Linked DNA regions of Homo sapiens: region 1 is linked to region 2. A link means that fine-mapping ties the variant in region 2 to the expression of a gene that starts in the linked region. Tissue or cell type: breast. Region 2 holds a variant in brackets; the other region holds the start of a gene. All regions are shown on one strand. Distances are from middle to middle.

Region 1 (5,147 bases), 44 kb before region 2:
AAGCAGGAACTACTGTTATCTTTTTTTTTTTTTTTTTTTTGACATATGAGCAAACTGAGGCTGAGGGTAAGGAAGTAACTTGCTCAAAGTCACTCAACTAACTGGTAAGCCTGGGATTAGAAACCAGATCTGATTATAAGGCTAGAGTTTTCCATTAGGCTAAAATGCATATGTGAAAGCACTTTGGGGAAATAAAGCTTAGAAATGTGAACAAATGGGCCAAGTGCAGTGGCTCATACCTGTAAAACCAGCACTTTGGGAGGCCAAGGTGAGAGGATTGCTGGAAGCCAGGAGTTTGAGACCAGCCTGGGCAACATAGCAAGTCTCTGTCTCTACAAAACAATAAAAATAAAATAAAAAATGGTCGCAAACACCTGTAGTTTTAGATACTCCAGAGGCTGTGGTGTGAGGATCACTTAACCCCAGGAGTTTGAGGCTGCAGTGGGCTATGATCAAGCCAGTGCTCTCCAGCCTGGGCAACAGAGCGAGACACTGTCTCACACACACACACAAAAAAGACAATATAGTATTATAGAAGCAGACTTTAAGATGAGGAGAAAGTAAAAGGAAAAATAAAAATAAATTTTTAAAGATTTGCACAAATGGAATAAGTTTTTTTTTTGGAGACGGAGTCTCGCTCTGTTCCCTAGACTGGAGTGCAGTGGTACAATCTCAATCTCGGCTCACTGCACTCTCTGCCTCCCGGGTTCAAGAGATTCTCCTGCCTCAGCCTCCCAAATAGCTGGGATTACAGGTGCACACCACCATGCCTGACTTTGTATTTTTAGTAGAGACAGGGTTTTGCCATGTTGGCCAGGCTGATCTTGAACTTCTGACGTCAGGTGATCCACCCGCCTTGGCCTCCCAAAGTGCTGAGTGCTGGAATTACAGGTGTGAGCCGAGCCACTGCACCTGGCCTTTTCTTTTCTTTTCTTTTTTTTTTTTTTTTTTTAGACAGAGTCTCATTGTGTCTCCCAGGCTGGAGTGCAGTGGCACGATCTTGCCTCACTGCAACCTCCACTTCCCGGGTTCAAGCAATTCTCGTGCCTCAGCCTCCTGAGTAGCTGGGACTACAGGCACACAACGATGACACCCCACTAATTTTTTGTATTTTTAGTAGAGATGGGGTTTCACCATGTTGGCCAGGCTGGTCTCGAACTCCTGACCTCAGGTGATCCGCCCACCTCAGCCTCCCAAAGTGCTGGGATTACAGGCGTGAGCCACCGCACCCAGCCTGAAGAAGTTTTTATTATAGCAAATCCCAGTTATACATCTTTTTACTTGGAAAAAATTATGGTGGACATTAATAATTAGACAAAACACTTTGGCTTGTTGTAAGTGAAGCTAGCCATTGTAAATTCCTAAATACTAGAGTAACATAAGGAAATGAATAATTTAGAAAGATCAGTAGGACAGCGGTATACAAAATGGTTGGAGCACAGGAATTCCAATTGGTGTGGGGAAGGAAGAAAGGATTAAGAACCATAATTAGAAAGCCGCTGCAATAAGGTAACTGAGTGGCAACTGGACCCAATGGTAGTGGCCGACTTTTCTTTTTCTTGTTAAATATAGATTTTGTTAAAATTTTGAAAAATGCAAAAAAAATTGAAAAATGCAAAAATAGGAAAATAAATCACCCATTATTCCAGTACTGAAGTAAATGGTGTCAATACACTAGTTTCAGTCCGGGCTTTGTGGTTCATGCCTGTAATCTCAGTCCTTTGGGAGGCCAAGGCCAGAGGATCACTTGAGGACAGGAATTCAAGACCAGCCCACAAAATAACGAGAGCAATATAATGAGACCCTGTCTCTACAAGAAAATTAAAAAAAAAAACAAAAAATTAGTCGGCTGTGGTGGCACGCACTTGTAGTCCAGCTACTTGGGAGGCTGAGGCAGGAGGATCACTTGAGGCAGGAGTTTGAGGCTGCAGTGAGCTATGACTGTGCCACTGCACTCCAGCCTGGGCAGCCGAGTGAGACTCAGTCTCTAAAAGGAAAAAATAAGTAAATAAATAAATGTGTGTGTGTGTGTGTGTGTATACACACACAACAATTTAAAGGTGAAAACATTAATAGGGCTTGGTAACTATCCAGACACTGGCCGGAGCCAAACCAGCCTGGCCAGCCAACTGTCCCGCCCCCAAAAAGCACAGGTTCATGTCTCTATGGTTGTTCCAGCGCCGGAACATGAGGATGTACTCTCTTCTTTTGCGGAACTCTATGGTCTGAGGACGCCGCTGTAACCCCGGAAGCAATCCTGAGAGGTCGGGACCGGCAAGATGGCGGCGCGGACAGCGTTCGGTGCTGTGTGCCGGCGCCTCTGGCAGGTACTGGATTGGCTAGGGAGACTAGGAGGGCTGACCGGGATAGTTGCTTTTAAGTTTCCCTGCCACCAGCCGCTCTGCCCATCAGGATTTTTCCTGATATTTATCCCTCACCTCGCGCCGTTTACAGGAAAGTGACGAGAAAGGGGCTAGTTTTATCAGAATTCTCTCATGGAATTAAATATAAGTTAGTGAGTCCAGGCAAAGATAGGAACAAGAATAATCGTAGAATGTCAGAGCTGGAAAAGATTTTGTACTTCGTATGTTCCAAAACCCCTCCTTTCACGCTTGCAAAATAAACTGAGGCTCAGAGAAGACAGGAAATTTGCCTCGCGAAAATTAGAGGCTGAGCTGGTGCAAGATATCAGACTCTTCCCATGGAACTAAATTGAGATGCTTTCCTGGCATCCAAATTTAGATGAAGGTCTCAAGCCAGAGAAGTGGGTTAGATATCCTCTGCGCAGTTATTTGCAGGAGGAGCAAAAACTTTTCAGCAGCGGTTCTCCTGCTTTTTGGCCTTGGGACCACTTTACACTTTCGGAGTTCAGGACTCCAGAGAGCTTTTGTTTTTGTGGGTTTTTGCTATCTATATTTAGCTTTTTGGAAAATAAAACTTAAGAATATATATTGATTTAAAAGTAACACTAACTCATTACATGTTACAACTAATACTTTATGAAAAATATATTTTCTGAACAAACTGAGTAAGGAGCAGCAATGTTTTACATTTTTGCAGCTCTCTTTAATTTCTGGCTTAATAAAAGCTAGATTCAAATCTGCTTCTGTATTTAATCTTTTCCTATATCACACCTCAGGCTGTCACGGGAAAACTTCACTGTACACTGGTAAGAGAATGAGTGGAAAAGTTGTAAATGACGTTTTGGTTTTATGAAAATAGTTTTGATTTCCCGGATCCCCTGAAAGTGTCTCAGACCCCACAGACGTCCTCAGACTACACTTTGAGACCACCGTTTTTGTTTTTGTTTTTGTTTGGAGACGGAGTTTCGCTCTTGTCGCCCAAGCTGGAGCGCAATGGCACGATCTCGGCTCACTACAGCCTCCACCTCCCGGGTTCAAGTGATTCTCCTACCTCAGCCTCCCGAGCAGCTGGAATTACAGTCATGCGTCACCATGCCCAGCTAGTATTTGTATGTTTAGCAGAGACGGGGTTTCACCATGTCGGTCAGGCTGGTCTCGAACTCCTGACCTCAAGTGATCCGGCAGCCTCGGCCTCCCAAAGTGCTGGGATTACAGCCTTGAGCCACCGCACCCGGCCTGAAAACCACTGTTCTTGAGAAAAGTCAGATGGTATTAGAGATTGAAATTTTTGAACTGCTTTATTAAGACAAATTTACCCAGACAGCCCTCCCTTCCAAACCACCACTCCCCCAACACACACACACACACACACACACACACTCTCTCTCTCTCTCTCTCTCTCTCTCAAGAAATACAAAGAAAAAATGCAATTTAAAAACTTCTTGGCCGGGCACGGTGGCTCACGCCTGTAATCCCTACACTTTGGGAGGCCGAGGTGGGCGGATCACGAGATCAGGAGATCAAGACCATCCTGGCTAACATGGCAAAACTCCGTCTCTACTAAAAATACAAAAATTAGCTGAGTGTGGCGGTGGGCCCCTGTAATCCCACCTACTCAGGAGGCTAAGGCAGGAGACTTGCTTGAACCCAGGAGGCGGAGGTTTCAGTGAGCTGAGAATGCTCCACTGTACTCCAGCCTGGGCGACAGAGCAAGACTCTCTCAAAAAAAAAAAAAAAAAGAAAAGAAAAAAAAAAGAAAAGAAAAAGCAGAGGTTTATAGTGGGAGAATGTGACTGAGAAGTGTAATATTCTTGCTCCTCTTGCACAACTCGATTGTGGGGTCACTGGTGTAATTGTTGGGAGGGAATTTTCTATGCAATTTTGTCTGAAGAATGGCACATACCTCTTACCACTTTGTGTTGTACCTGATTTCCTTTTTCCTTTTCCCCTTTGGTGCAAAGAAGATTATAGAGTTATGATTTGTCTCTATCTTGGGTAAGGAGAGGAAGGACAATAAGCTAAGAATAGGCTTTTAAAACGTGGCTAGGTGGTGGTTCACTCCTGAAATCCCAGCACTTTGGGACACTGAGGCTGGAGGATCGCTTGAGCCCACGAGTTCAAGACCAGCCTGGGAAATATGGTGAAACCCCATCTCTACAAAAGTACAAAATATTAGCTGGGCCTGGTGGCCCGTGCCTGTAGTCCCAGCTATCTGGGAGACTGGGGTGGGAGGACCACCTGAACCTGGGAGGTCCAGGCCATGATCATGCAACTGCACTCCAGCCTGGATAACAGAGTGAGACCTTGTCTCAAAAAAACCCTGAAAAAACAAACAAAAACGTACTTAGGTGACAATCATTTGTATTAATGAAACTTCACTTATGCTAAACTTCTTTTTTTTTTTTTGAGAGGGAGTCTCGCTCTGTCACCCAGCCTGGACCTCCGCCTCCCGGGTTCAAGCGATTCTCCTGCCTCAGCCTCCCAAGTAACTAGGATCACAACCGCACCGCCACCATGCCTGGCTAATTTTTGTATTTTTAGTAGAGACAGGGTTTCACCATGTTGGCCAGGCTGCTCTGGAACTCCTGACTACAAGTGATCCACCCACCTTGGCCTCCCAAAGTGCTGGGATTACAGGTGTGAGCCACGGCACCTGGCCTTATTTTCATCTTCATTGTGTTTTTAAGGATTCTATTGTGTTTCCACTTTCTCAGGTTACACTTCAAAATCTCAGAAAAGTTGAAAGGAAAAAACAGCTGTTATATGTAGTAGTATCGTTTGTTT
Region 2 (5,147 bases):
GGAACCAGTCCCAGTTTTAAACAGAGTTTAAACCAGAAGATCACGGCAGGGGTTAGTGAGGAGACTTCTAAGCAGAGACTTGCAGCAGAGGAAGGTGTAAGCCGAGCAGAATTCTGGGGGCAGAGAGGGTCCCAGGCAGCACAAAACCCCTAAGGCGGGGGTGTGTGTGGAATAAGGGAGGAGGCCAGACTGCCTAGAAACAAGGGGTTGATTTACTTTCAGTGGAAAGACAAGGGTCAGGTTTGGTACAGTACAGGTGGTGCTCGCATGGGACACACATTAAGACATGGTTGGCTCAGCGTGGTGGCTCACGCCTGTAATCCCAGCACTATGGGAGGCCGAGGTGGGCGGATCACCTGAGGTCAAGAGTTTGAGACCGGCCTGGCCAACATAGTGAAACCCCATCTCTACTAAAAATACAAAAATTAGCCAGGCATGGTTGTGGGTGCCTGTAATCCCAGCTACTTGAGAGGCTGAGTGAGGCAGAAGAATCGCTTGAGCCCAGGAGGTGGAGGTTGCAGTGAGCCGAGATCACGCCACTGCACTCCAGTCTGGGCGACAGAGCGAGACTCCATCTCAAAAAAAAAAAAAAAAAAAAAAAAAGACATGATTAGGCAAATACAGGGTCGATGTGCCCCAGGGTTGCCCTCCCCCACCCCCACCGGCGTCATATGTGTGACTGTAAGGGTCCTTCTGCAGACATGTCTTAACCCAAAGGGTTTTCTTAGCAGGTGAGAAGATGAGATATGTCGCTGTTTGGGGGTAAGGTGTGAGGCTCAACCATCCATTTGTCCTTCCCCTCCTGTTCAGGAGTTATTCCTTCTTCGGGAGCATTTTGAGTGTTGAATGTGATGATGCCATCCCTCCCAGTCTCTGTACACAGGCTCTGGACTCTGCTCACCTGCTCCCGCTTCGGGAAAGCCCTTGGGCTCCCTCATACTACACCTGAGGTTGACACTCAAAGCCCGTAATCTACTTTGGTCCCTTATCCTTAAATATTAGTGAGTTTTAAATAGCCACTGAGCCCCAGCTTTCCCAAGAAGCCCCACCCATGATGGTGCCTGGACCTTCTGGGCAGCGAGGGAAGGAACCTCTCCCGGGTCTGCAGAGGACACGCGGCAGCGCCTCATTGCATCCTCACTTTTCAAGTGAGGGGCCACAGGGTGGGGAGCCACGTTTGCAGATTTGGGCTCTTCCACAACTATGTCTTGACCAAATAGTTCCAAATGAATGGAAGATTTACTATGAAAACCAACAAACATCTTAACTAATGCTCCCAACATCCACGGCATCATGAATATACTGGGACTGAGAGGGGAAATGATGGGCTCAAGGTCACCCAGCGGATGAAAGCTAGGGACCCAAACCCACAGTCCCAAACTCACCTTTCAGTGACCCCTCTAGCTTATCAATTAGGAAGTCCTTACCTAATGCGTCCAGGTGGCTACTGAGGAGACACAATTTGACCACGGTGTGGACCTTCAGGCTCACTTGAGAAAAGGTGATATGAGGTCACTGGGTATTTTGAAGTTGGGAGCATTCTGGGTTCTCCAGGGACCAGGCAACCCTGTCTGTCTCCAGTCCTCATGTCCGCAGAATATTATAAGTGGCCTGCCCATGCCAGACAGTGAGGCTAGAGAATCATCATCTTGCTCCCTGCTCTCTGCCCCTCTGCCCACATCCTTGGGAGCTTCAAAGGGTGTTTGCAAAAGCACCACGTATAGGACCAGCACATCGCAGGTGTTCAATGACCATCTTGGAAGTGTTTACACTCGTTTTGGAGTAAACCAAGATATGCCTGTGGCAGAGGTGGAGGAAGCCATTGGATTCAGCCTCGGATTACACTAATGTGTGGGCCTCTCTGTCTTGCCCTAGAAAGTGAGGGCAGGGACAATGTCTGATACATTTCTAACCCCCCAGTGCCTGATTCACAGTTGGTGCTCATTAAAGCACAAACATTAGATCCGTTGAAACCCTAGTGTCAAAAACCCACCTATCAAATAAACAAATGACTGTATAAATGAAGTTGCTCCCCAGCGGACACTTCTATGCTCCTCTCTGCTCTTCCTCACCCCCAGCTGGTCAGGCTTCCAGAGGGGTCCCTCCAGCACTTCCCCTCCCTGCCACTGGGCCCCTGCTCACCTTGTTGAAGTCAAAAGTCTCAAACATCTGTTCCACGTACTGGCTGGCCGACGGGCTCAGGTTCTTGAGGCCGAAGAACTGGCGGAACTCATAGAGGGTGAGTTGGCCAGAGGGGCACTCAGTCATGAACTTCTTGTACCACTGGTGGCACTCGGTGCTGCTCAGCTCCTCCACTGACTTTCCCTCCATCACGTTGCCCATTGCTCAGGCCTTCAGGGGGCTGACGTCTGAGATGGACAGGCCCTGTTCGCTGCTCCTCGCCCAAAGGTGTCTTGGCCGACAACGGGGCCGTCCTCTCTCACAGGCCTGAGTCCTTCAGGCCTGAGCAAAGAAGGGCCTGATGGATCAGATGGTACCGGGAAATGTGGAGAGGGAGAGAGCAGAAGGAAGAAGATGATGGCCCACACTCAAACTCACAGATGCCAGAGAACTGGTGTTAAGAGTCTCCACTAAATCCTTGCAGCCCCAGGGGAGACTGTACCCTGGAGAAAAGAGTTGAAAATAGAACAAGGCTTAGAGAAGCAGAGTCCTTAGGATTACAGCCTTGAGCTGTAGGTGAGAGGATTTTTTAACCCAGTTTGCAATCTTCTAATCCCTTCTTACCACCACGGAGTGGGTGTCAGCTAGAAGCTGCTCTGATCCTATGACCTTTGTGACCTTCTTCTCCTGGTTTGAGTGGATTCACAGTGGTTTTGGATTCTGCCTTCAATCATGGAATTGAGGTATATATGAGATAGAGCTGGCTTCTTGTCCAGAGATGGCCAACTGTGGGCTCTTGACAGGGCTGCTGTGTACAGTTATCCAGGCTGTGCACTGCACTTGGCCATCACAACTGAGGGGGTCCAATCATACCATGAGTGTGCTAACATTTGAGGGCACCTGGGTGGATGCAGAGTCTGTGG[G/A]CTTCCAAGATAAGCCTTGAACAGCCAGAGAGAACCCCCTCCTACATTAGCCTGCACCAGTACACAGAGACGTGCACACACATACACACACTCGTACACACTCATCCTGTTCTGGCCACACTCTCATGTTCCTGAAGGTTGCATCTCTCCCTTCTTGAGAGCCCTGAATTCATCCTTCCATCTAATTCTGAGCCTCACATCATCACCATCACCTACTAGGGGCACAGGGCAGGGGACATGGAGTGTGCGCCTGGTGCCCTGGGGTATGTGTGAGTGTGAGAGTGCAGGCACACAGGTGCATGGGTGAGCTGCTACCTGCTGGTCCTGGAAAGCTCCCAGGCCAAGCCTGGGGGCCTGTCTATGCAGCAACAGCTTTCTCTGATGCCTGGTGGGATGCGTACTCCCTAGCCACACACTTAAAAGCTGGCTCATTTATGGAACCAGCATTTGGGTGCAGGTGCACTTAACCTGGATGCTGCCAGGAAAGCTTAAAGCCAGCGCTTGCCCTGCCCTGTCTTTTTCTCTTGTTTGCCTTCCTCCTTTACATATGGGGCACACCCAGGTCTCCTAACTCATCTAGAGGGAACCACTGCCCATATTTCTGCTTTCCCCACCAGGGCCTTGGACACTTGGTCAAGTTGTGCACTGATACACAATTTATATGATTTATATAAATAATATATAATTACATGTAAATAGATTTATATAAATATACAATTTATACAACATATAACATATATCAAATACATGTGCATACATATTTCAGAATGGGCTAGGTTATGCTACAGTAACAAACCACTCTAAAATCTCAGTGGCTGAAAACAATACAAGCTTGTTTCTTGCTTACATTACTGGCTGGGTGACCTTGAGCAAGTAACTTAACCTCTCTGGGCCCCAGTTTCCTCATTCTTAAAATAGGAATAATGGCGCCCATCTGATAGGGCTGTTAAGGGGAGTAAGTGGGGCTGGGCACGGTGGCTCACACCTGTAATCCCAACATTTTGGGAGGCCGAGGCGGGTGGATCACTTGAGGCCAGGAGTACGAGACCAGCCTGGCCAACATGGTGAAACCTCATCTCTATTAAAAATACATAAATTAGCCAGGCGTGATGGTGCACACTCCTGTAATCCCAGCTACTCGGGAGGCTGAGGCAGGAGAATCGCTTGAACCCAGGAGGCGGAGGTTGCAGTGAGCCAAGATCGCACCACTGCACTCCAGCCTGAATGACAAAGCGAGACCCTATCTCAAAAAAAAAAAAAAAAAAGAGTATGTGAGTTAATATAAGAAAAGCATTTAGAACAAGGTCTGCCCCAGAGTAAGTGCCCCATAAATCTTGGCTATGATGTTATGATTTTGTATCTATTACAGCAGCATGTCTGATGTGCTGTTCACTACAATCTAGGTGCACTTATACTGCATCTTGGACACAGCAGCATCCCTGGGTTAGAGCCAATCGTGCTCTTGTCCCTTTAGCCCCATTCACTCTGGGCCCTGGACGGCCAGAAGGGCTATGTGTAGGAACAGACATCCAACCTGCCTCACACAGGCCACCTACCAGCTGTAGTCAGGCCCTAGGGAAGGTGGAGGCCTTTGTTAAAGCCTTACCAGATCCAGGCTCACGCCTGTAATCCCGGCACTTTGGGAGGCTGAGGCGGGTGGATCACAAGGTCAGGAGTTCGAGACCAGCCTGGCCAACATGGTAAAACCCCATCTGTACTAAAAATACAAAAATTAGCCAGGCATGGTGGTGGGCGCCTGTAATTCCAGCTACTTGGGAGGCCGAGGCAGGAGAATCACTTCAACCTGGGAGGCGGAGTTTGCAGTGAGCCGAGACTACGCCATTGCACTCCAGCCTGGGCGACAGAGAGAGACTCCATCTCAAAAAAAAAAAAAAAAATTGTTCATAATGAACATATGTTGCTCACAAAATCAAAGAGGATAGTTATTTTTGAAAAAGAGACAAACTGGGACTGTTTTACCTCTACTCCACATGAATTGATTGACGGAAGGTATATGGGGGTGGGGAGCTGGGTTCTCCCTGCTTCAGTCAGCTTCTCCACAACAAGTTAAGGGACGGGGAGAGAAGGACTCCTTCTGTGAAC

What was found. PIP is the estimated chance that this variant, and not a neighbour inherited with it, causes the effect.
Region 1: it holds the start of MRPS10, and the variant in region 2 is fine-mapped to the expression of MRPS10 in breast (GTEx, PIP 0.94).

The regions. Positions count from the first base shown.
Region 1 is chr6:42,214,982-42,220,128 of GRCh38, reverse strand. MRPS10 (mitochondrial ribosomal protein S10) reads left to right here and starts at 2,268. Exons shown (of 7, transcript NM_018141.4): 1 at 2,268-2,327. The coding sequence starts at 2,280. RefSeq lists enhancers at 2,101-2,380, 2,952-3,553, 3,554-4,156.
Region 2 is chr6:42,170,810-42,175,956 of GRCh38, reverse strand. It overlaps GUCA1ANB-GUCA1A (GUCA1ANB-GUCA1A readthrough), which reads right to left. Exons shown (of 5, transcript NM_001319062.2): 2 at 2,143-2,624. The coding sequence starts at 2,343. GUCA1A (guanylate cyclase activator 1A) reads right to left here and starts at 2,593. Exons shown (of 4, transcript NM_001384910.1): 1 at 2,143-2,593. The coding sequence starts at 2,343. The variant G/A (reference allele first, on the strand shown) is at 3,045.